4 linked regions of the Homo sapiens genome follow. The protein of the gene in region 4 purifies or fractionates together with the protein of the main gene of each other region. This does not show direct contact. Each region holds a gene or a part of one and is shown on either strand. Other genes may lie near its edges. The genes, in order: HERC5, MRPS5, EDC3 and CCDC59.

The links.
Region 1: the proteins of CCDC59 (region 4) and HERC5 purify together in Homo sapiens (affinity purification with mass spectrometry; 2 studies listed by BioGRID and IntAct, with this or other methods). This does not show direct contact.
Region 2: the proteins of CCDC59 (region 4) and MRPS5 purify together in Homo sapiens (affinity purification with mass spectrometry; 2 studies listed by BioGRID and IntAct, with this or other methods). This does not show direct contact.
Region 3: the proteins of CCDC59 (region 4) and EDC3 purify together in Homo sapiens (affinity purification with mass spectrometry; 2 studies listed by BioGRID and IntAct, with this or other methods). This does not show direct contact.

The regions. Positions count from the first base shown.
Region 1 is NC_000004.12:88,467,113-88,474,153, forward strand, and holds part of HERC5 (E3 ISG15--protein ligase HERC5), read left to right. Parts: coding exon 1-92; intron 93-518; exon of another isoform or gene 519-594; intron 595-1,233; coding exon 1,234-1,310; intron 1,311-2,044; coding exon 2,045-2,148; intron 2,149-3,501; coding exon 3,502-3,561; intron 3,562-5,296; coding exon 5,297-5,390; intron 5,391-7,041.
Region 2 is NC_000002.12:95,084,837-95,090,817, forward strand, and holds the end of MRPS5 (small ribosomal subunit protein uS5m), read right to left. Parts: intron 5,687-5,981; coding exon 5,550-5,686; intron 2,746-5,549; coding exon 2,521-2,745; 3' UTR 533-2,520; downstream 1-532.
Region 3 is NC_000015.10:74,665,003-74,672,043, reverse strand, and holds part of EDC3 (enhancer of mRNA-decapping protein 3), read left to right. Parts: intron 1-269; coding exon 270-589; intron 590-7,041. UniProt on the Homo sapiens protein: Binds single-stranded RNA. Involved in the process of mRNA degradation and in the positive regulation of mRNA decapping. May play a role in spermiogenesis and oogenesis.
Region 4 is NC_000012.12:82,351,763-82,355,388, reverse strand, and holds the end of CCDC59 (thyroid transcription factor 1-associated protein 26), read left to right. Parts: intron 1-794; coding exon 795-894; intron 895-2,076; coding exon 2,077-2,238; 3' UTR 2,239-3,086; downstream 3,087-3,626. UniProt on the Homo sapiens protein: Component of the transcription complexes of the pulmonary surfactant-associated protein-B (SFTPB) and -C (SFTPC). Enhances homeobox protein Nkx-2.1-activated SFTPB and SFTPC promoter activities.

The sequences.
Region 1 (7,041 bases), on a different chromosome or scaffold from region 4:
TGGAAAAGATGGACAACTGGGAAATGGTGGAACACGTGACCAGCTGATGCCGCTTCCAGTGAAAGTATCATCAAGTGAAGAACTCAAACTTGGTAAATTCTATAGGAACATAGGGTTTGGCATAGTATCTTTTTAGAGAAAATGATTTTTCTAACTAGGTAATGTGGCAAAGAAAGCAACATATGACTATGAAGGGAGTTTCTCTAAATACTGGTTTCATTTTTTACTGGTAAACAATTCAAGAGTCAGTCTAATTTACTGAGGCAAAATAATTATTCTATATTACTCCTTCAGATTAGGATTAATGTGAATTTAAATGATAAAATAGACAATGGATTCAGAGGCATATGCAGCTCTCATTCCAGTTTGCAAGAGACTTACTAATTCTTGTAATTAGTTGTTTACTAATTCTTGTAATTGGCTGGTTGCCCTGGTTAAGTTGATCCACAGTCATATAAAACCCTCAGAATAATGAGCAATCAACGTATACCTGGCACTGAACTGTGCTCAGCACTTACTTGTGTTATCTCACCAATCCTTGTAACAGTTCCTGGGAGGTGTATTCTGTCACTCCTCTTTTACTGGAGGATAAAGAGACTTGGAGAGAAAAGGGTTAGCCACTTAATCATGGCCAGTAAGTGGTTTGTCTGGAGTTGAACCCGTGCCCTTTATGACCTCAGAGTCTGAGCTCTGAAACACTCCATTGTAGAAGCACCTTGGAGCATTTCTGTTACTTGTTTCTGAAAGCTTAGTGGTGACCTCAAGTAACAAAATCTACTCATTTCTTGTAGGAAAACGAACAGAGTTATTTCCTTAAGCAGCATGTATTATCTTTGATTCCTTATAACAGTTACATGGGCTTAAAGTACTTATATTCTTTATAGCCAGCAGTCATTGCTTAAATCTTGAAAACATGGTTTTTAGTAATGGGAGTTGAATTAAACTGATAACATTTAGCTAATCAAATATTTGCATTTTATATATAAATATTTGTATTATGTATATTAAACTGATGTCACATGTCCACCTTGTGAATTACCTATGTTTGCCAACTAGACTTTACTCCAAAGGATATGTATTTCAGCTGCTTAATTGGCAGAAAATGTACTAAGTTTTGTCTATTAAGAAGAAAAGATGACTACGTTTAAGAAGAATCTGAAGTTATTTAAATTGAACATGCATGTTTGTGCCAAATGACTTTCTAAAACTCTTACTCTTTGTGCATCCTTTCAGAAAGCCATACCTCAGAAAAGGAGTTAATAATGATTGCTGGAGGGAATCAAAGCATTTTGCTCTGGATAAAGAAAGAGGTAAAAATAGATCTCCAGGTGTTCTATAACCTGGTATTTTAAGCAAAACTAAGGGTTCTAGTATCCCAGTTTGGTGAATTCCAAAATCATCAGTTTACCAGGCTGACTTTTTGGGGGATAGCTGGACATTACTGATCCTTTATTGTCTAAACTACATCAGTATTTTCCCACAAAAATCAGCAGATTTTTCTCTGGTGAATGTCTAATCAGTGTGATTTCCATAGGCTATACTTACCTTTTGGGGGCTACTTGCCAATGATGTTTGGTCAGTATCCTTGCAAACAACAGAGTGACAGATTCTAAAAATGACTTTGCAGGCCAGTACTAAGAAAGACACCAAGGTTCATGGGCTTGCAAATAAAAAGTCCATAACTTCCCTGCCCTACTTCACCAAGTGAAATCGAGTTCCTCACACTTCTGCACACAGCTCTTTCAGGATCTTCCCTTCCCTTCAAGGCTGTCTGATGTTCAGTTTAATTTGATTGTATTTGTATAAAGTGCTGAGTGTTGAGTCCTCAAAGAAATTTACTTTCAGTCTAAGCCCCCTTGGACAAGAAAGTGGCAACCAGGCAAATGATTGATTACTTATTTGTTGAGTATCACTTTGTGATTGTCCCAGGGCTGTATTACACATATTTAAAAGTCAGTTTTACTCTCTAGAGTGTACCTAAAAGTTGGGTGCCTATCTCTGATGTGTCTAAATTATTGTATTTTACTTTCCTGTTTGTTTACAGAATTCATATGTTAATCTGAAGAGGACAATTCCTACTCTGAATGAAGGGACTGTAAAGAGATGGATTGCTGATGTGGAGACTAAACGGTGGCAGAGCACAAAAAGGTACACCCCACAGTCTGACTCTCTGCTTATATATCACTCTCAAGTATCATTTCCCAAACTGGTTCTGCACAGCAATATGAGATTTTGTAGTCAGGGTTTTCCAGAGAAACAAACTCATAGGATATGTGTGTATTTCTGTCTCTATCTTTATCTCTATCATGTCTGTCTGTCCATCTATGTATCTATGGAGGGGAGAGAGAGAGATTATTTTAAGGAATTGGCTTATGAGATTGTAGGGGCTGGCAAGTCCAAAATCTGTAGGGCAGGCCAGCAGGCTGGAGACTTGGGGAGGAGTTGATGTTGCAGCTCAAGTCTGAAGGCAATCTAAAAGCAGAATTTCCTCTTCTTTGGGTGACCTCAGCCTTTTCTCTTAAGGCCTTCAACTGGATGAGGCTCACTCACATTATGGAAGGTCCTTTCTTTTTATTCACTTGTTCAAGTGCTTTACTCAGTTTACCATTTTAAATGTTAATCTCATCTAAAAAAATACTTTCATAGAAACATCCAGAATAATATTTGACCAAATATCTTGGTACCATGGCCTAGCCAAGTTGACATATAAAACTAACCCATCACAACTAGCATGTAAGCGCCATGAGGACAGCTTTCTTTACTGTAGGGCTTCTCCAGGCCTCTGTTTATGTATATTGTGACTCTCTGGCCAGAAAATAGAGTCTATAGTGTTTCCCAGTCCCATTTGATCCTGGAACCATTAGTTTGTGTACCTGTTATTCTTAGCTGAACAATTTGTACCATTCTTCTCTAAACCATAGAACTCCTATAGGTTTACAGAACTCCTACCTATTCTTACAAACATCATCTTTTAGAAATATTTTTAGGTATGGCTTTCTAATTCTGGAAAATGATTGTACAAAGTAGTTGCACAAAATAGTTGCATCATAATTTGCAGAGCATAAATAATTAAGAACTGTACAACTACTTCTAAGATGAAACTGAGCATACTCCTTCCCCCATTTAATTTCTGGTAATTTATTTCTACTTCAGTGGAATAGAAATAAATAGGACTTGCATAGTTGGTGGGGTGGGAGTATTTTGTTTGTTCAAGAAAGTTCTGACCATAAATCAAGCCTTTCCTCTTTATTTGAGGCTTCTCTGAGTATGTATAAACTTTTTTATTTCCCATGTTTGCCACTGAAATTTTGAGATTTACCAAACAGAATGGACTTTTAGAAGCCAAGCCAAGGTAATATGCATACAGATAGGAGACAAATGGAGAGGTTGGAAGGATAGTTATAAGATGTGGTATTTATCATGTCTCATGCTGTAAAGAAAGAGGCTGTATGTATGTATACCATGTGATTTGGTTTAACCAGTGTCTTATTACTAATATAGGGAAATCCAAGAGATATTTTCATCTCCTGCTTGTCTAACTGGAAGTTTTTTAAGGAAAAGGTAATATATGTAATAAATTAATTGTATTAAATTGTATTAAGAGTACCGTGAAAGAGGATAAAAAAATGATTGGAGAGTAAAATAGCTGTGTGTTCATCCCTTTTTAAAAATTTTTTTTAACAAAAGTAAATATATGTTTGCTGTAGAAAATGTCAAAAATACACACAATAAAAAGAAAGTGAAAATCTTCCATAATCCATCACTTAAGAGTAATAGCTAGCACTTACGTATATGATTATATTTTTTCATGCAAATGTATTCTTTTAAAAAAAATGAGATCATACTGGTTCTTTGTTTTTTTCTTTTTTTTTTTGAGACAGGGTCTTGCCCTGTCGTTGCCCATGCTTTAATGCAGTTCTGTGATCTTGGCTCATTGTAACCTCTGCCTCCTAGGCTCAAGCAGTCCTCCCACCTCAGCCTGAGTAGCTGGGGCTTCAGACACATGGCACTACACCCAGCTAATTTTTGTATTTTTTTGTAGAGCCAGAGTTTTACCATGTTGGCCAGGCTGGTCTCGAACTCCTGAGCTCAGGCAATCTACCAGCCTTGGCCTCCCCAAGTGCTGGGATTTCAGGTGTAAGCCACCATGCCCAGCTGGATCATATTGTTTATACATTGTTTTCTACCTAATATTTGCCCATTTTACATTTTATTCTATCTTTTTTGGTAATTTTTTTTTTTTTGAGACAAGGTCTCACTCCATCACCCAGGCTGGAGTTACAGCATCTTGGTTCTTGGGCTCAAGCATCATCAAACTCTTGGGCTCAAGCAAAACTCCCACCTTAGCCTTCCACGTAGCTGGGACTACAGGCACGTGCCACCACCTCCTGCTAATTTTTTAGCTTTTGTAAAGACAGCAGCTTTGCTATGTTGCCCAGGCTGGTCTTGAACTCCTGGCCTCAAGCAGTCCTCCCACCTCAGCCTCCTGGTGTTGGGATTATAGGTGTGAGCTACCGCACCCAGCCGGTAACATAATTTAATGGCTGCATGACCTTCCATTAGAAGGTCTTCCATGAGAAGATACTTAAACATTTCATTAATAACTTTATATTGAAGTACTAAGAAATTATTGGTCAGAAGCCCTCTCTTTTGGTTCCCACTTTTCAGTCCATTTAACGGGAAGAAATGGATGTATTTTTTAGAAATGGGAAAAATGTTTATCTTTTTTCTGTCTTCCTTCCTTCCTTCCTGTGGTCAGTCCTTTCTTCCTTCCTTCCTTCCTTCGAAAAACCTTTATCTTTTTTCTATGGCCCGCCCTTCTTCCCTCCCTTCTTTCCTCCCTCCCTCCCTCCCTCCTTCCCTTCCTTCTTTCTTTTCTTTTTTTCTTTCTTTCTTTTTCTGAGGCAGGATCTTGCTCTGTCACCCAGGCTGGAGTACAGTGGCATGTTCACAACTCACTGCAGCCTTGATCTCTCAAGCTCAAGCGATTATCCTGTCTCAGCCTCCCTCTGTGGCTATTTTTTTTAAACTGGGAAATATTAATTTTTTTAATCTATTACAGATAAGACAGCATCTGAGTTAAAGTCTTATGGTATATACAGTTAAAGCAGCCTTGATATTTTTTGGTATTTTAGAAAAAATCATGTTTACTACATTGCATTTGGATTTAGACAATTTATTATAGTTACACACTTGAGAAAAAAGGTAATTTTGTTGAAATGGGGCAAGCTCTAGAAGAAACTTTGCATCTAGGGAGATAATCTAACAAAATACTTAATTTATCTTTCTTCTACAGAAGAACTACAGAAATGATGCCTGTTTATTTGGACTTAAATAAAGCAAGAAACATCTTCAAGGAGTTAACCCAAAAGGACTGGATTACTAACATGGTATCTTCAGATTGTTATGTGGAGAAAGAAAATACACCAGAATATTTCTTAAAAGAACTCAAAATTTCAGAAGAAATGTTTTGTGTTAAGGGATTCTCCGAGACCTTGTAGCATATTCAGATTAAGTTAAACTCAGATAACATTTAGGAGTTTGCCCTTTTAGGGTGAAATAGTTGGCATAGTAGTCACACAGGTTACAGATATTCTAAATAGTGTGTCTGTACACAAACACACATACACATATATGCATACACATTCGTAGAGGGAAGTTTTTCAACTCAGGGCTTTAGGAAGATGATTAAGGATTTGTTGAGATTGGTACACTAGAATAAGAACATTTTATATGCAAAGCATAAATGTAGAAATGAGAACATTTTTTCTGATATGAATATCCCTCTCACCAGGGACTGCCTGGATTCTTTTTTTTTTTTTTTTTCCATTCTACTTTTCTGTAGATTCTAGAATGTTCTTGTTCCTTATGGGATGATTGTTTCCTGTTTCAGCACTGTTACTGCTATCTTTAGGTTTTCTTTTTGCAGGTGCTCCAAACATGCTTCCTTTATTTTTATTTTTATTTTTTTGGAAACGGAGTCTCGCTTTGTTGCCCAGGCTGGAGTCCAGTGGTGCGATCTCGGCTTACTGCATGCTTCGTTTATTAATTTAGTTTTTCTTAATGTAGTTTTTATTATTTCCCTATTTTATTTTACTGGTTGATATGGGGATACTACTTTCTGTTCTACTCTCCATTTTTTTCTCTCTGGGTCGCACTGTAGTTCCTTCTTTCTTTCTCTCTCCTTCCCTCCTCCCCTCCTTCCTCCCTCTAGCCTCACCCCATTTTTTAATCTCTCTCTGTGTTCATATCCCTCTTCTCTTTCCCTCTCAATCTTTGATCTCTCACCCTTCCTCCTTTCAGCTCCCGCACTTGCTCTGTTTGCCACAACTAGCATTTTCTATTTCAGCTGCAAGTTTTCTCATTCGCTCCTTTCTTTCAAGGAAAGATGGAAAGTTCAGTTCTCTTAACTTTGGCAGAACCACAGCCCCACTGGGGGTCCGAGGTGAAATGGTTCCCTAATTATGTACCTTTATTGGGACCCTACAACACTTAGTGCTGCCTGTATCAACAACCCAGAAACTACTCAGTGGACTATTTCATCAACATTTGTTAGAGCTCATTTTCTTTTGTTTTCTAAAATCCTCCTGTGGGGGCCAGTTTAACTTTCTTTCTGTAAGATTCTGAGTCATTGCTACTAAATACAACCATGGAAAGATTACCAAAAATAGAAGCCCTTTTGTGCGTCTGTGAAGGGAAGGGATTGGATCAGTTCATCATTAAGGGCTCCTTCTGTTTACTAATTATACCTTGATTGTGCCACAAAAAGAACATATGGTATGTAAATGAAATAATCATAGGGCATCCTTGACCTCCATTGTTTCAGAATAAGATGATTGGATTAGAAGACCTGTAATGTTTCTTTCTATCTTGAGGTTCTGCGATACGGACTCTCAGACCTTTGGCATGTGTTCATTTATTCAGCAAACATTTGAATACTTGCTGTGTGCTGGGCACTGTAATGATGACTCGATGAAGAATAAAAGAGACATACTCCCTGTGCTTTAGAAGCTCATGGTGTAGTAAGGGAGACAGATACAT
Region 2 (5,981 bases), on a different chromosome or scaffold from region 4:
TTATTAGATGCCAAGTATTGTATATTTTACTTTATTGGGTATATTTTTTGTATTCCTATATTCTTGAGCTTTGTTCTGGAACACAATTAAGTTACTTTGAAACAGTTGTGTTCCAGTTTGGTCTTGTTTTTAAGCTTTCTGAGTTGGGACCAGGGGTAGTTTTTATGTAGAGTTAATTTTTCTACTACTAGGGCATCTTAGTTCTCTTCCAATGCCACCTAGATTACAAGGTTTTCCACTGTGACTGTTGATAACAGGCACTATTTTCCACTCCAAACACTGTTCCCTCTAATTCTTTTGGGTGAGTTTCCTCACCGGCATGCACTATTAGTGTGTAACTAAATATCTGATGGAAACTCTCTGCAGATCTTAGTTCTCCTGCTGTGCAACTCTCTCCTCCAAGGCATTCTCCCCTGTGAACTCTAGTCATTTCGACTGCCCAACTGCACCTCAACTCCAGGAGACCGCCAGGTCCTGATGGGGTAACCCTTCCTAGAACCACGGACTCTCCGCAGATAGTAAGTACAGATAATTTTGTTTCCCCTCTCCAAAGGATCATTGTCTTTTATTGCTTAAAGTTCATTGTCTTTATATTTGTTAGGTACTTAAGAAGGAAAACTAACAGGACAGATAAGTTTTAGGAAATAACTACCTTACTCTAGCAAAATACCACACACAAAAAAAGGGGACCCACCCACACCAGACAACGTCACAGGCTGAAAACTTTCACCATCCAGCCTAACATGGCCTGCTCCCTATCCCACGGTGCCATTAGGGTGCTCCTCCTACTTCCAGCAGAAAGGCCTCAGCAGAGGTCCCGAGGACAGCGACAGGAGGAAACCTGGATCTCCATCCTCACCAGGCAGTAACGAGGCAGTGCCCCATCCCATACCAGCACCGTCAGAGGAAGCATGCTGAGAGATTTAAATAACTCCCAGAGCTTCATAACAGTGAAGATGACCAGGATACAGCCAAAGTCACTCATCATAACAAGAACTAGGACATTGTAAACTTGAATGAGAAAAAACCTCAAGGGATGTCAACACTAAGATGACACAGATGTTGAAACTTTATGACAATTTTTTTTTTTTTTTTGGAGACAAGGTCTCACTCTGCCACCCAGGCTGGAGTGGCATGAACAAGGCTCACTGCAGCCTCAACCTCCTGCAATCAAATGATCCTCCCACTTCAGCCTCCTATGTAGCTGGGACTACAGGCATACACCACCATGTGTGTCTAACTTTTAAATTTACTTTTACTTTTTGTAGAGATGAGGTCTCACTTTGTTGCCTAGGCTGATCTCAAACTCCTGGGCTGAAGCAATCCTCCTGCCTCACCTTCACAAAGTGCTGGGGTTATAGGCGTGAGCCACCACACCTACCTGATGACAAAGATTTTAAAGCAGCCACCATAAAAATGCTTCAGTGAGCAATTATAAACACTCTTGAAGCCATTTAAAGAAAAAAAAAGTCTCAGCAAATAGCCTCAGCAAATAAAGAGAAGACATAAAAAATAAACCAAATGGAAATTTTAACTGAAATATACAATGACAGTCAAAGTTAAAGTACTGCATGGATGGTTCAAGAGCAGAATGGAAAGGAAAGAGTAAATAACCAGTTATTCTGAAGATAAAACAATAGAAATTACCTAAACTGAGCAACACAGAGAAAACAGACTGGAAAAAAAATAAACAGCGCCTCAGGGACTCACGGGACAATAGTAAAAGATTCAACATTTTGGTCATCAGTGTCCCAGAAAGAGGATGTGGGTGGGGCAGAAAGAGTATGCAAAGAAATAAAAATATATATATTCCACAGAATGGGTAAAAACTTCTGTAAAGCATGTATGATAGGGGGGCTTATATCTAGAAACTATAAGGAACTCAATAATAATAAAAAATAACTTTTTAAATGGGCAAAGGCTCTGAATAGACATTTCTCCAAAAAACATATACAAATGGCCAATCAGCACATGAAAAGATGTTCAACATCATCAGCCATCAGGGAAATACAAGTCAAAATTGCAATGGTATACAATTAATATACCATTTAACATTCCCAATAGTAGCCTACAACTTCCATTTCCACTGTGGAAAACGGTTTGGAAGTTCCTCACGGTAGTCAAGTTACTTAACTGCTCTGTAAAATGAAGTTAATCACATTCACTTTGGATGAATGAGTTCATATATATTAGCTATAATTACTACAGCAATTATCATTGTGTACATTATTACTGATTGGGTCAAATTATTAACCCCGTCTCCCTAATTCATTTACTTTTGTTACTTTGGATGAATATTTAAAGTAGTCTTGAACTGAGATATGTATGTAAAGGTTCTATCACATTGGCATATAACATGTGCTCAACAAATGAAAGCTATAATTATTTATTTCCAAAGAGTTTAAAGATTAAACTTCCCTCAAAACAAACAAAAGGCAAGGTAACATCCCAAGCTGTGAGGGGCTGAGTCTCTCCTAGGTGCAGGGCAGCACAGGAACTGGCTGCACAAGGCCAGAGAGGTTACGTGGCGGCTCTCTTCAAATTAGACCACACAGAGCGCTTCATTCCCTGTGCAGTCTTCACATCTTCCCAGTCCAGTTTGACGTCTGGAACCTCATCTTCTGGCTCTGGATCCTTCCTCAAGGGCCCCCGGGGGGACGCAACCACAATGGGCAGAGGGCCACATTCCTCCCGGATTTCCACAACATGGAGGCCCTTCTTATCAGCCAGCTGTTGATGGGTTTCCTAAGCAAGACCAAATTCAGAACAGGTTAGGTCTGAAGTACATTTGCAACATAAAGAGCAGGAACTTCCACAGGCCACAACAGTACAGCCTGGGGGTATTCAAAGGCCATTTCAGTGGATTTGGGTTAATGTGTTTTGTGGCTAAACTCTAATAACCTGTCATGGGTGGAGTCATTTCAGCCTCATCTGCTGCATCTGCCCACCCCAAACTTGGATAGAGGAAGGGCCTTGGCCTCTGGTCTCTTGCCTTCTAAACCCTCCTGATTATGCACCATGCTGTGCCAAACACTGAACTTGAATCTCACCAACCCCCTAGATCTAACTACCAATTTACAGTAAATATAGGGGAGATAAGACACTAAGGACCCTACAGGTATTTTAGTCAGCAACAGGCCAGGAAGCACTACAAAACAAACAACCTGGTTTCCTCAACAAAAAATCATAAGCGGGGCGGGGGTGGGGGAAGAGGAGGGGAACCTATTTAAAAGGCATAGCAAAAACATACATTAACCTGTTCTGCAACCTGATTCAAACACATTGTGTAAAAAAAAAAAAAATTTTTTTTAATCTAACAAATGGAATTTGCTCATTTGTATGAACATTGATTGGATATTTGATGATACAAGTTACTGTTAACTTTTTAGGTATGATAATAGTATTACAGGGTATTTTTTAAAATCCTCATCTTTTCGAAGATACATACTAAAATATTTAGGGTTGAAATAAAATGTCTGAGATTTGGTTCAAAATAACTGGGGGTGTACTAAGAAGCAAGACTGGTCATGAGCTGGGTAACAGGGCCATGGGGATTCACTGCAGAGGGAAGCCACAGAGATCTGGAAGCAGGCAGATTAGTTCAGTAGACGTTATTCATGGTACAATGACATACCTGCTATGTCAATCCCGTGATCCCAGGCCTTATGGCTGCCTTGCACTATTCTAATTATATATCTAATGCCCTGCAGTATGTGTGAAATTAGAAAACAGATGAGCCATTTCATAAACAAAATAATTTATATTGGTGTATCTTTCAATCAAAGGCATATCACCTAAAGTGGTGGCATCTTTTCCTTTTTGAGTGACATATTAAATAATGCAACCTTTTATAGCTGATGGCATTTTAGGAGAGATGACATATGGTAACTATATCAGAAGGTTTAAAAGACTAAAAGAAAACAAAGATATCACATAAAAGAACAAGTCTAGGCTGGGCGCGGTGGCTCACGCCTGTAATCCCAGCACTTTGGGAGGCCAAGGCGGGTGGATCACGAGGTCAGGAGTTCAAGACCAGCCTGACCAACATGGTGAAACCCCATCTCTATTAAAAATACAAAAATTAGCCGGGCATGGTGGCACGTGCCTGTAGTCCCAGCTACTCAGGAGGCTGAGGCAGGAGAATCGCTTGAACCCGTGAGGCGGAGGTTGCAGTGAGCTGAGATGGAGCCACTGCACTCCAAGCCTTGGTGACAGAGCAAGACTCTGTCTCAAAAAGCAAAAACAAACAAACCAAAAACCAAAAACAGAACAAGTCTACTGGATCATAAATACAACCTATCTAAAATCAACATCTTAATTAAACCTCTAATGTTTCAATTTACAAGTGCTCTGAAGGGTGTTTTAGACAGTAACACACACAAAAGCTGTTCAGAAAACAGAAGGCTTTTACCCAAAGCCTTCTTTTTCTTTTAATTTTCCTACTTTAAACAGAGACATGTAAAATTACTCCATGGATCACTTTACCTAAAACCCACCACTGTACTCCTGAAATGTCAGGAAGCCTGCCAAAGTCCTCAGCTAACAGAGTTCAGCAAATGGAGCCTATTGAACCTGGTTGTCTTTTCTGTTCATCCACCTATGCTAAGGTCTACCCATCCTTTCAAGAGACAGGCCAGCCCTCCTGGGCAGGTAGGGGAGCTGCCCAAGAATGGGGGCCCGGTGCAGTCACAGCCCTGCCCTCCATGGTGGGTGATTGGGAGCCGGGCCCAGGGCTCCCACCTATGAGGAAAAGTAACCTGATATGTTAATGTTCATAGTTCCCTACCAACCCAGGCATCAGTCCGAACCACCTACACAGGTAACAGGGAACTGACTGTGCCTGCCCTGTGTGCAGAGGTGCCCTGGGTGCTTCATCCTAGCCCCAACTGAAAGGACTAAATTAGGAAATGAACTTTCTCTTTTGATTTTACTTTTCTATACTGTTGGAGCTTTAGAACAAGCAGGTGTTATTTTCATAATAACATGTAGATTGTAATTATTGGCTTTAAAAATGCTGCTTAGAAAAACCCATGAAGTACTTTTTAAAAGGTAATTTTCAGGCCGGGCGCGGTGGCTCACACCTGTAATCCCAGCACTTTGGGAGGCCGAGGCGGGCGGATCACGAGGTCAGGAGATCGAGACCATCCCGGCTAAAACGGTGAAACCCCGTCTCTACTAAAAATACAAAAAATTAGCCGGGCGTAGTGGCGGGCGCCTGTAGTCCCAGCTACTTGGGAGGCTGAGGCAGGAGAATGGCGTGAACCCGGGAGGCGGAGCTTGCAGTGAGCCGGGATCCCGCCACTGCACTCCAGCCTGGGTGACAGAGCGAGACTCCGTCTCAAAAAAAAAAAAAAAAAAAAAAAAGGTAATTTTCATGAACTTGTCAATGGATTTAACTAAACTGATGCAGTCACAGACAACAAAGAATGCCCAACTCCTCAGGTGGCCCCAGGAAAGCATCTCCAGGAGGCCCCAGGGCATCGTAGCCCCAACACACACAACTGAAATACAAACTAGAACCTCTGTTTCAGACCCCGGGAAAGGATTACCTGTCTGGAGAGCCCACGGAAGAGGCCCTGGGTGAGGCTGAGCATATTAATGGACCCAGAGACCTTGGCATACATGTCTTTGATGCCAATGAGCCGGCAGATGGTGATGATGGCCCTGTGGCAGCGGAGGCCGTAACCTAGAAAAGGAGAAACCGGGTGAAACACAGCCCACTCGCCTGCAGCCGGAGGAGTCACCCTGCTGGCTTTCGCATGGCTTCAGGCTCTGGGCTTCGGGAAACTGGTTCATATTCTGGTATCACCACTTCCTAGTGAGCTGACCCTTGACAACTTACTTAACTTCCAAGATGACACTTACTCAAACAGGATACTACAAGGATTAAGAAGATGACATCTACAAATATCTTGAACACATTTTGAGGGCAAAAAAACAGGATTGTTATTGAGATTAATAAACATGCATGAAAATTCTTG
Region 3 (7,041 bases), on a different chromosome or scaffold from region 4:
GTGATCCGCCCGCCTCGGCCTCCCAAAGTGCTGGGATTACAGGCGTGAGCCACCGTGCCCGGCCAATAGCCTCTTTTTAAAGGCTAGCATTGTGTCAGTTGGATAGTTGGTGGCTGACCCCTGTCCTTAAGCACACAGCCCCCTTTCCTAGCCTCTGATAACTCAATAAAATGCAGTCCTGCAAAGGGGTAGCTGTTTGCTAATGATCTCAGTTTCATCATTCTTACCACTATTATAATTTTGAGACTTGGCTTTTTTGTGTATTTCAGGGCAGGTGACATTACGGAGTTAAAAATTCTGGAGATACCAGGACCTGGAGACAACCAACATTTTGGAGACCTTCATCAAACAGAATTAGGCCCCTCTGGTGCTGGCTGCCAAGTGGGCATCAATCAGAATGGCACAGGCAAGTTTGTCAAGAAGCCAGCCTCTTCCAGCAGTGCCCCTCAGAATATCCCTAAGAGGACAGATGTGAAGAGCCAGGATGTTGCCGTTTCCCCGCAGCAGCAACAGTGCTCAAAGAGCTATGTCGACAGGCACATGGAATCCTTGAGTCAGTCCAAAAGTTTCCGTCGTCGGCACAACTCCTGTAAGTAGGGTCAAGTTGATATTTCTTCTCAATCTGGTGTTTCAGGGCTATAAGCCATAAGCACTGCTGCTCTTTAAACAAATCCTTTGTTATTCCAATAAAATGGATGCTGGCTGAGCGTCACAGAAATACAACATGGTTCTCTTCCTCCAGGCCTCATTCCTCAAGATGTTAAGGGAAAGGAAATAAGCTGTTAGGGATGCCTGTGAGCTTCCTGCCCTCTCTTACCACTTCCTTCAGGAAAAGTCTGCCCAGAGTTTACTAACAGTGATGTTTTAAATCCAGGAACTACTGGGCGTGGTGGCACGCATCTATAGTCCCAGCTACTTGAGAGGTTGAGGCAGGAGGATTGTTTGAGCCCAGGAGTTCAAGGCTAGTCTGGGCAAAATAGTGAGATTCTGTTTCTGAAAAAGAAAAAAAAAAAAACTTAAATCCTGTTACTGATGTTGGTAGTAGTGTTTGAGTTGAACCTGCACTTGGGCTGTTCCAGAGGATTCTTGAGTAACTTTTCTTCCTGTGATTTGAGTCTCATCCTCAGAAGAGAGGAGGGGACTGATCCAAACATCTCTGTGATCTTTGATTTTCTAGCAGACAATTTTTAATTTGCTGTATTTGTTCCTACTGACACACCAAGAAGAATGTGCATTGGTCTCTGTTGCTGCCCAGTTTTGTTTGATACTAACACATTATTAAATGCCATTTGCTGATTATAAAACCATAGTTGTGACCAGGCACGGTGGCTCACACCTGTAATCCTAGCACTTTGGGAGGCTGAGGCGGGCAGATCACCTGAGGTCAGGCGTTTGAGGCCAGCCTGGCCAACATGTTGAAACCTCGTCTCTGCTAAAAATACAAAAATTATCCGGACGTGGAGGTGCATGCCTGTAATCCCAGCTACTTTGGAGGCTGAGGCAGGAGAATCCCTTGAACCCAGGAGGCAGAGGTTGCAGTGAGCTGATATTGTGCCACTCCAGCCTGGGCGATAGAGCGAGACTCTGTCTCAAAAATAAAATAAATAATATAAAATAAAACCATAGTTGTGTTGGTGGTATGATGGTGAGCATAGCTGCCTTCCAAAACCATAGTTAATTCACTAGAACTGTTCTTCTCCAACATATTTACTAGAATAATGTTACAATAGCGAATCATAACATTCACTGGAATCTGTTATGCTCCTTAAATTAATATGAATGTTGTTTTAAAAAATTACTTCCAAATGCCAAACTATTCTTATTTTACTTAGATGGTTTTGTACTCACAGATGGTAGCAGAATGTATTAGAAATTTTAAGTGAGAGGCTGGGTGCAAGTGGCTCACACCTGTAATCTCACTACTTCAGGAGGCTGGGGCAGGTGGATCGCTTGAGCCCAGGAGTTCGAGACCAGCCTGAGCAACATGGCAAAACCCCATCCCTACAAAAAAAAAAAAAAAAAAAAAAAAAAAATTAGCTGGGCGTGGCAGCGTGCACCTGTGGTCCCAGCTACTCAGGAGGCTGAGGTGGAAGGATGGCTTGAGCCAGGGAGGCGGAGGTTGTGATTAGCCAAGATCATGCCACTGCACTTCAGCCTGGGTGACAGTGTGAGACTGTCTCAAAATGAACAACCAAAAGAAATTTTAAATGAGTATTCATTAACTCATTTAAAATTATAAGCTAGAGTCATGCTATGGCAATACCTTCTAAAAGGCACAATTTAGAGTGAGCTAGGTCTCTCTAGACCCCACTCAGAAAGTTTATTACATAAAATTCCGGATACTTCTTGCTACCATTGTTGCTCCTCACACTGTGGTCCTGGTGGCAATGTAGTAAGGTTTTAGTGTGCTGGGTGAATTCTATTAGTAGCTTGTGGTGTGACACCTGTGTCAGGGGCCAACATTTTAAGTTTTGGAGATGCCTGATTCAAGTGAATAAACAACTAAATTAAAACTAATTTTTTTTTTTTTTTGAGATGGAGCCTTGCTCTGTTGCCCGGGCTGGAGTGCAGTGGTGTGATCTTGGCTCACTGCAACCTCCACCTCCCATGTTCAGGTGATTCTCCTGCCTCAGCCTCCCTAGAAGCTGGTACTACAGGCACTTGCTGCCATGCCCGGCTAATTTTTTTTTTTTTTTTTTTGAGACAGAGTTTCGCTCTTATTGCCCAGGCTGGAGTGCAATGGCGTGATCTTGGCTCACCGCAACTTCCGCCTCCTGGGTTCAAAAGATTCTCCTGCCTCAGCCTCCCGAGTAGCTGGGATTACAGGCATGTGCCACCACGTCTGGCTAATTTTGTATTTTTAGTAGAAACGGGGCTCCATGTTGGTCAGGCTGGTCTCAAACTCTCGGCCTCCCAAAGTGCTGAGATTACAGGCATAAGCCACTGCGCCCGGCTAATTTTTGTATTTTTAGTAGAGATGGGATAATGCCATGTTGCCCAAGCTGATTTCGAACTCATGACCTCAGTTGATCTGCCTGCCTCGGCCTCCCCAAGTGCTGGGATTACAGACGTGAGCCACTGCACCTGGCCTAAAAAAATGTTTTAATGTATGTAATATACAGTTTCAAGGTAGTTTCCTTTGGTGCATATGAAACAACTATCTGAAATGACGATGTTTGCAAATATGAGACTGAAATTCAGTTGTGACTTCTGTATCCTTAGAAAAACTGTAGAATGCTTGGATAGAAAATGATTCTTTCCATTTAGACTTTAACCTTTTTCTTTCTTTCTTTCTTTCTTTCTTTCTTTCTTTCATTCATTTTTGAGACAGGGTCTTGCTTTGTCACTCAGGTTGGAATGCAGTGATACGATCACAGCTCACTACAGCCTTGAACTCCCAGGCTCAAATGATCCTCCCACCTCAGCCTCCTGAGTAGCTGGGACTACAGGTGTGTGCCACCATACCTGGCTAGTCTTTTTACTTTTAGTAGAGACAAGGTCTCACTATGTTGCCCTGTCTGAAAATCTTTTTTCTTTTAGCAGAAATTGTTGATTTGTTAGAAGTTCAAATAGGCAGTTTATAATCTTCCGTGCACTTGAAGATGACCCTTATTAGCAATTCATATTATTTTTTTCTACACATTTTTCCCCGTTATTAACGTCTTACATTTGTATGGTATACTTGTTATAATTATTGAACCAATGTTGATGCATTATCATTAAACAAAGTCCATATTTTATTCAGATTGCCTTAGTTTTTACCCGGATGCCCTTGTTTCAGGATCCTGTCCAGCATATCACATCATATTTGGTAGTCATTTCTCTGCTTGGCTCTTACAGTTTCTCAGACCTTCCTTGTTTTTGATGACCTAGACATTTTGATGAATACTGGTCAGGTATTTTGTAGAATGTCTCTCAGTTGGTACTTGATGTTTAAATCATGATTAGACTGGGGTTATATGTTTGGGGGTGGAAGACAACAGAGGTAAAGTACCATTTTCATCACCTTGTGTCAAGTGTATATATTATCACCATGGTTTATAACTTTTGATGTTCACCTTGATCACCTGGCTAAAGTAGGATATATCTAGTTTCTCCTCTGTAAAGTGACTCTTTCTTCCCCTTTACATATGTACTCTTTGGAAGGAAATCACTATGTGCAGCCCACACCCAGGGAGTGAGAAGTTATGTCCCCTCTCCTTGAGGACACAGCATCTTCAGACATTACTTGGAATTCTTTTATGCCAGAGATTCCTCTCTTCTCCCCCATTTGTTTATTTATTCAGTCATTTATTTATATCAGCATGTACTCATGGGTATTTATTTTATACTTTGGCTTATAATTCAATATTACTTTATTTTGGTACTCAAATTATTTCAGTTTTGGCTAGTCTCCAATCTTTCACTTGGATCTCATGTCCCTTTGACATACTCCAATCATTGTGGATTTTATTTTTTTTTTTTTTTAGTACTTAGGTACTTTCTCACACTGAAAGATGCTTACTACTACCACTACTACTACTACTACTGCTGCTGCTGCTGCTTCTCCTCCTCCTCCTCCTCCCTCCTCCTCCCTCCACCCCCTCCCTCTCCCCCTCCCTCCTCCCCCCTTCTCCTTTCTTTCTTCTTCACTAGGGATGCTCATTGCTCCTGGGTGTCACCCTTATAGCTGACAGCAAGAAAATGTGTATACTTCTCTGCAGAGTTCACAGAAAAGAAAATATATGTGTGTATATTTAACCAGCATATATATACATATTTAAATATTTCTATATGTAACTATGTATATTGTACTATACTAAGTATGAGTTCATACTGATGTCTCCAACTTTAATCCATTACCACATGGATCCTTCTAGCCTTCTCCTTTTGCTTGTCTGTTACTTCTCACTCCAACAGTGAGAAACCTGTCTCCTATTGTCATTCATTCTTTACATAATTATTCAATTCCAGTATACATGTATAGTGGTATCAGAATTATTAACTTGTATCGCCATTCCTGTGGGAGACTATCAAACAGAATGTGGTGCTTACGTACTGTTTCTTTTGCCTTTCATCTGACTCCATTCATTTCTAGAGTTATTTAGGTCTCCCATTTCCTTCATTGACTTGTTTCATATATTCATAATACAATTAATTTGTTTTATCACATTCTGCATTCCATCCTGGGATCTTCTAACCTCCTAAATGATTTTTAAAAATTTGCAAACACTAAGGCTCACTCTTTGTGCTGTAAAATTCTGTGGGTTTTGACAAATACATAGCATCATGTATCTGTCATTACAGTATTAAACAGAATAGTTTCATTGTCCTAAACAATCTCTTGTGCCTTACCTGTTCAACTTCCCCCACTTCCCCCTGGCAACTACTGATCTTTTTATTATACCATCCCTGCAGTTTTGCATTTTTCCAGAATATCACATAATTAAAATCATACAGTATGTAGCCCTTTTCAGACTGGCTTCTTTCACTTAGCAAGATGCATTTAAGATTCATTCATGTCGTTTTGTGACTTGATAGGTCATTTCTTTAATTGACGGATAATGTTCCATTGTGTGGATATATCAATTTGTTTACCCATTCACCTATTGCAGGACATCTTGGTGGCTTCCAGGTTTTGGTTATTCTGCTTTTGCTGTTTTGTCAGTTTCCTTTTTCTAGATTGTTAACTGTACATAAATGAGGTAAAGAGATCATAGGGCAGTAAAATGTTACTATTTTTCAAGAAACTTATGTAGAATCCAGATTAGTTTGGAAAATGTTTGTGGCCTGGGAATGGCAATAAGACGTGGCTCAGAATAGGTTTCTGATAGAAGGTAGAGTTATAATTATTTTTCCACTCATTGAGCCCTGTAAGTAAAAAGGTCTGCCTTAGAATTTTCTCCAGTTTATGTACATTGATATTGAGACTAGTAGATTGATGAAGCTATAGAAATATAATCTGTCGGCCGGGTGTGGTGGCTTATGCCTGTAATCTTAACACTTTCGGAGGCTGGGACGGGCAGGTTGCCTGAGCTCAGGAGTTTGAGACCAGCCTAGGCAACATGGTGAAACCCCGTCTGTACACAAATACAAAAAATCAGCTGGGTGTGGTGGTGGGTGCCTGTAATGCCAGCTACTCAGGAGACTGAGGCACAAGAATTGCCTGAACCTGGGAGTCGGAGGTTGCAGTGAGCTGAGATTGTGCCACTGCCCTCCAGCCTGGGCAACAAAGCAAAACTCTGTCTCAAAAAAAAAAAAAAAAAGGAAAGAAAGAAATATAATCTGTCTTCAGTTCTGGCTTTTAAGTGTTCTTTCAGGATTGCAATAAGGAGTTGAGGAATTTGTTGGTTTATAATAGTTAGCTAATCCAACACTGATGATTTAGCACAAGCAGATTTTAATCTCTTTTCGGGTGGGAGTGGGTTTAAAGAATCATGTAAAGAATAGTTTTTCTGTGACCATTCAGAATGTTTGTCAAATAGACATAACATCAGTCCCAGGGAGCAGAGGGAAACCAAGCCTTGTTTAGGGTGCAGCTCTGTGTATGGGTATAATTCATATTTATCAAATCCCATGTCACAGCTGAAAATGGTGACCATGAGGGGCAGATGAAAGGCATCCCTCTCTGAAATCTTAGTCTATGAGCTTGAATAGTCATTGTAACATGCAGTTGAATAAAAATTTAACAGTTAAGTTAAGGCTCTTTTGCCTGTAGAACATGAAAGTAGATAGCTGAGGCTGGGCATGATGGCTGATGTCTCTAATCCCAGCACTTTGGGAGACTGAGGTGGGCAGATCACCTGAGGCCAGGAGTTCGAGACCAGACTGGCCAACATGACGAAACCCTGTCTCTACTAAAAATACAAAAAATTAGCTGGGCCTGGTGGTGCATGCCTGTAATCCCAACTACTTGGGAGGCTGAGGCAGGGAGAATTGCTTGAACCCGGGAGGTGGAGGCTGCAGTGAGCCGAGATCGTGCCATTGCACTCCAGCTTGGGCAACAAGAGTGAAACTGCATCTCAAAACAAACAAAGTAGATAGCTGGCCTTTAACTCATTT
Region 4 (3,626 bases):
GTGGTGTACAATTTAAAACATATGAATTGTTTATTTCTGGAATTTTTCAATTTAATATTTTTGGACCTCTGTTGACTGCAGGTAACTGAAACCGTGGAACAGGGAAACCATGGATAAGGGGTGTGCTACTGTACTATAAAGTTGAAGGTGAATAGGACTGAGGACAGGTCTCTGGATTTGTGGACTAGGCAGTCACTAGTCACTAGTCCAAAGTCGCTAGTGATTAGTAGCTATTAAAATATTATATTGTAGTTACAGAGTATAGTGAAAAGTTGAATGATAGAGGAAAGTAAAGTTATTACTGAATCAAGGATGCTGAGGAAATGAATGGAATTCCAAGTAGTTGGATTAGCCTTGACAAAAAGGACATCTTCAGAGAGGTGAGAAGTAGTTAAAGATAGAACAGTTCAAAATGGTATCTAGATCCAAGGTATGGTGATTCATGACTAGGTAGGTAAAATGGAATAGAGAGGAGGGGCTCAGAAAACTTCGAGATTAAAGTTCATATATACACATAATTTTCTTAACATCCTTAAACAACAAGTTTAATTCTTTTTTCAGTCTGGCATTTCTATCATTCATATACTGGTTTCATTACTTTTAAAAGTTTTTTTTTTTAACATTTTAGGATTTTTCATAGCTTTCTATATTTTTTCCTAGTTGAAATATTTCTCTAAGAATCCCCATTTGTGCCTTTTATTTAATATATACTCTTAAAAGCTACAACTGTGTTTTTAATACCTTTTTGGACATTTTACTAATAAAGTCCTGTTTCCTCATCCCCCAATTAAAAGCTCCTTTACAATTCCAAAGAAAAATAAAAAGAAAACATCAAATCAAAAAGCACAAGAAGAATATGAACAGATACAAGCCAAACGTGCTGCTAAGAAACAAGTAAGTTCTACTTTGAAAATATTTAGTATAGTTTTTCTTATTTATCCTAAATATATATACTATACCTGTTGTGCTTCTTGGTGCTGGGCACACAGTATTCTCTCTGTAAATATTTGTTGAATGAATGAGTAGTCTGAGCAAAGGTAGAGGATTGCATCTTATTCCAAGTCCTTGCTTGTATTATGTCAAGCAATACTAGTAGGTCAAAAATAGGATTTTGAACACATTGTTTATAGGTCAATATTGTGAACATCTGGGACAAAGTTTCACTGAGTTTGGTCCAGGAACTTGCACTTGTTAACAAGCACCTCAAAAGATTTTTATGTATGATAAAACTTGAGAACCACTGACCTAAGAAAAATATAGATGATTTTCATAACATTACATTGAAGAAAGTAAAAGCAAAGGGGAGGTGTTAGAATAAAATACTTTTTTACTATAAAGAGGTGTTCTTGCCTGTTTAAAAAAAAAAAACAACTATTATTTTAGCTTAGCAAAAGTTAGCACTCTATTATTTAGAAAACCAGAATTGTAGACCAGAATTAGGCTTTTTTCAAATGAATACAGAATTACCCACAGCCTCAACAAAATTGTCATTTTGTTGTAACTGTGGTAGTTCTTGTTTTTCCATTGAAGTTTTATTGATCTGTAGCTTTAAAAAGTATAATGTGTCAGTTAAAAATACCCTAAAGATATGTAATTTTGCTTGTTTTTGCTTTAGAATATCTGTAATTAAGAATTCTTAACATCAAAAATGTTTTCATTGTTCTTAAGCTGGTGGCAGATTAGGAGAAAGCAGGAAAATTTCTTCATGGGAATACTGGACCAGTATTAACTAGCACAGCTTTATGCTTTTTCCAACCATCTGTCACCTTTGGAAACAGTATATCAGATGAAGTGCAGTAATGACCATTATGCTGTAAAACATTTAATGTCCTTTTAAAATTTTGTTTATATAGAGCTGGGGCTTTGTGATCATGAAAATTCTCTGTTATACCATGGGTCATTATAATATGAAGGCAAAGAGGGTACTTTGCTTCAATTAGGAGAAACAGTGCACATCTTGCAAAATAGAAGAGACAAACCTTAGAGTGTTTGCTTAGTAATAGCTATTTCAAGACAATTTCTGAACTGTATCTACTGTTTGTTGCTAATGAAAGTTACATATGTTAATAATTTTAGGAATTCGAGAGGAGAAAACAGGAGAGAGAAGAAGCCCAAAGGCAGTACAAAAAGAAGAAAATGGAAGTGTTTAAAATACTGAACAAAAAGACTAAAAAGGGCCAACCAAACTTGAATGTACAAATGGAGTACCTTCTTCAAAAAATACAAGAAAAATGTTAAACATTTTGTTCCTACAGGTTAAAATATCTGCTGCCTATTAGGTTCTTCTGTGACATGTGCCTCCCAGCAGTGAACTAAATTTGTCGACATAAACTGGATTGCTAAACTATGCTAAATATAAGATGTTCACATATTTTTATTATGGTAAAAAATTTTCTAAATATGTTCTACATGTTTCTTATTTATTTGCCTCTGAAGGAAGGTTGGCCTGAAGAACTGAAAGAACCTCTTATTTTGCAAGACAGGCCCAAGCATGTAATACTTTTGTACCATATGAGATTTATATGAAATAAATTTTTTAAAAATAAGGAATCAGAGCTATCAATGAAGCATTTCAATGAAATATTTCAATTTAGTAAACAGTTACGTTGTTTTAAAATTTATTTTAATGATGAGGGAGGCAAAGACTCCTCTTGGACTTTTTATTTATTTTAAGTACATGTTACAGGGTGATGGGTGCTGAAATAAACTGCCCTCACCATATAACAAAGCGACCTTCACAAAGCAGTGAACTCAAAGTCTGATATTTATAAACATTCCCTTAAATGGATGTACATGGCTTGTTAGTCTAAGGTCTTTTAAATAATGATGGAAACCCCACAGTGTCACAGCAAGAATTAAGCTTTCCAGTTCCTATGGACCCTATACTTTAAGAACATTATCTCTGTCTCCCTTGTTGGTACCCTTGTGAGCTGAGATAAGCCACTGGGATAACTGCTTCTCATGCTTTGCAAATTGCAGAAGAATGAGAAAGGCTTGAAATATATATATAGTCATTGTAAGCAAAAAGGGCTGACCAATAATACTTGCCAAATATTGAATAATAAAATTTTATAAATGATAGCAAATACAGTCTGAAATTGCATTAAGATTTTAGGGAGCTCTTTCAGTCTACTAATTTATTCTGCATTTCAAGATCAGTAGAAAGTGCTTAGATAACACTGAACTTAATCTTCATTGCATAGAAAAGCAATGCTTTAGAAATTTGCATTGCACTATATTGCATTTAAAGTAAGCAGCCCAGAAAGCCTAAATTTGGCTACATTGGTGAAGACACATCACATCATGATGGAGGATAAATTATTTCAGTAAATTGCTTTACAATTTTTGTGCATTTTCACTTCTAGACACTTAATCATGACAAAACATGGAAGGAGATCTAGTCCTTTTGAGAGACAAGTGAAAGTCAAATTATATTCATTTTAACGACTTTGTTAAAAGCTACTTTATGCAAAACTTATATTAAGGAGTTACTCTTTAAAATTCCAAAGTTCTTGTAGAGGAATAAATGCCAAGTAATGGTATAATGGGGGAAAAAGTAATCAGTGACAATCAGATAAAGCAAAAGGTTAAGATTTTAGTGTTATCAATGAAGCACCCAGGAAGCT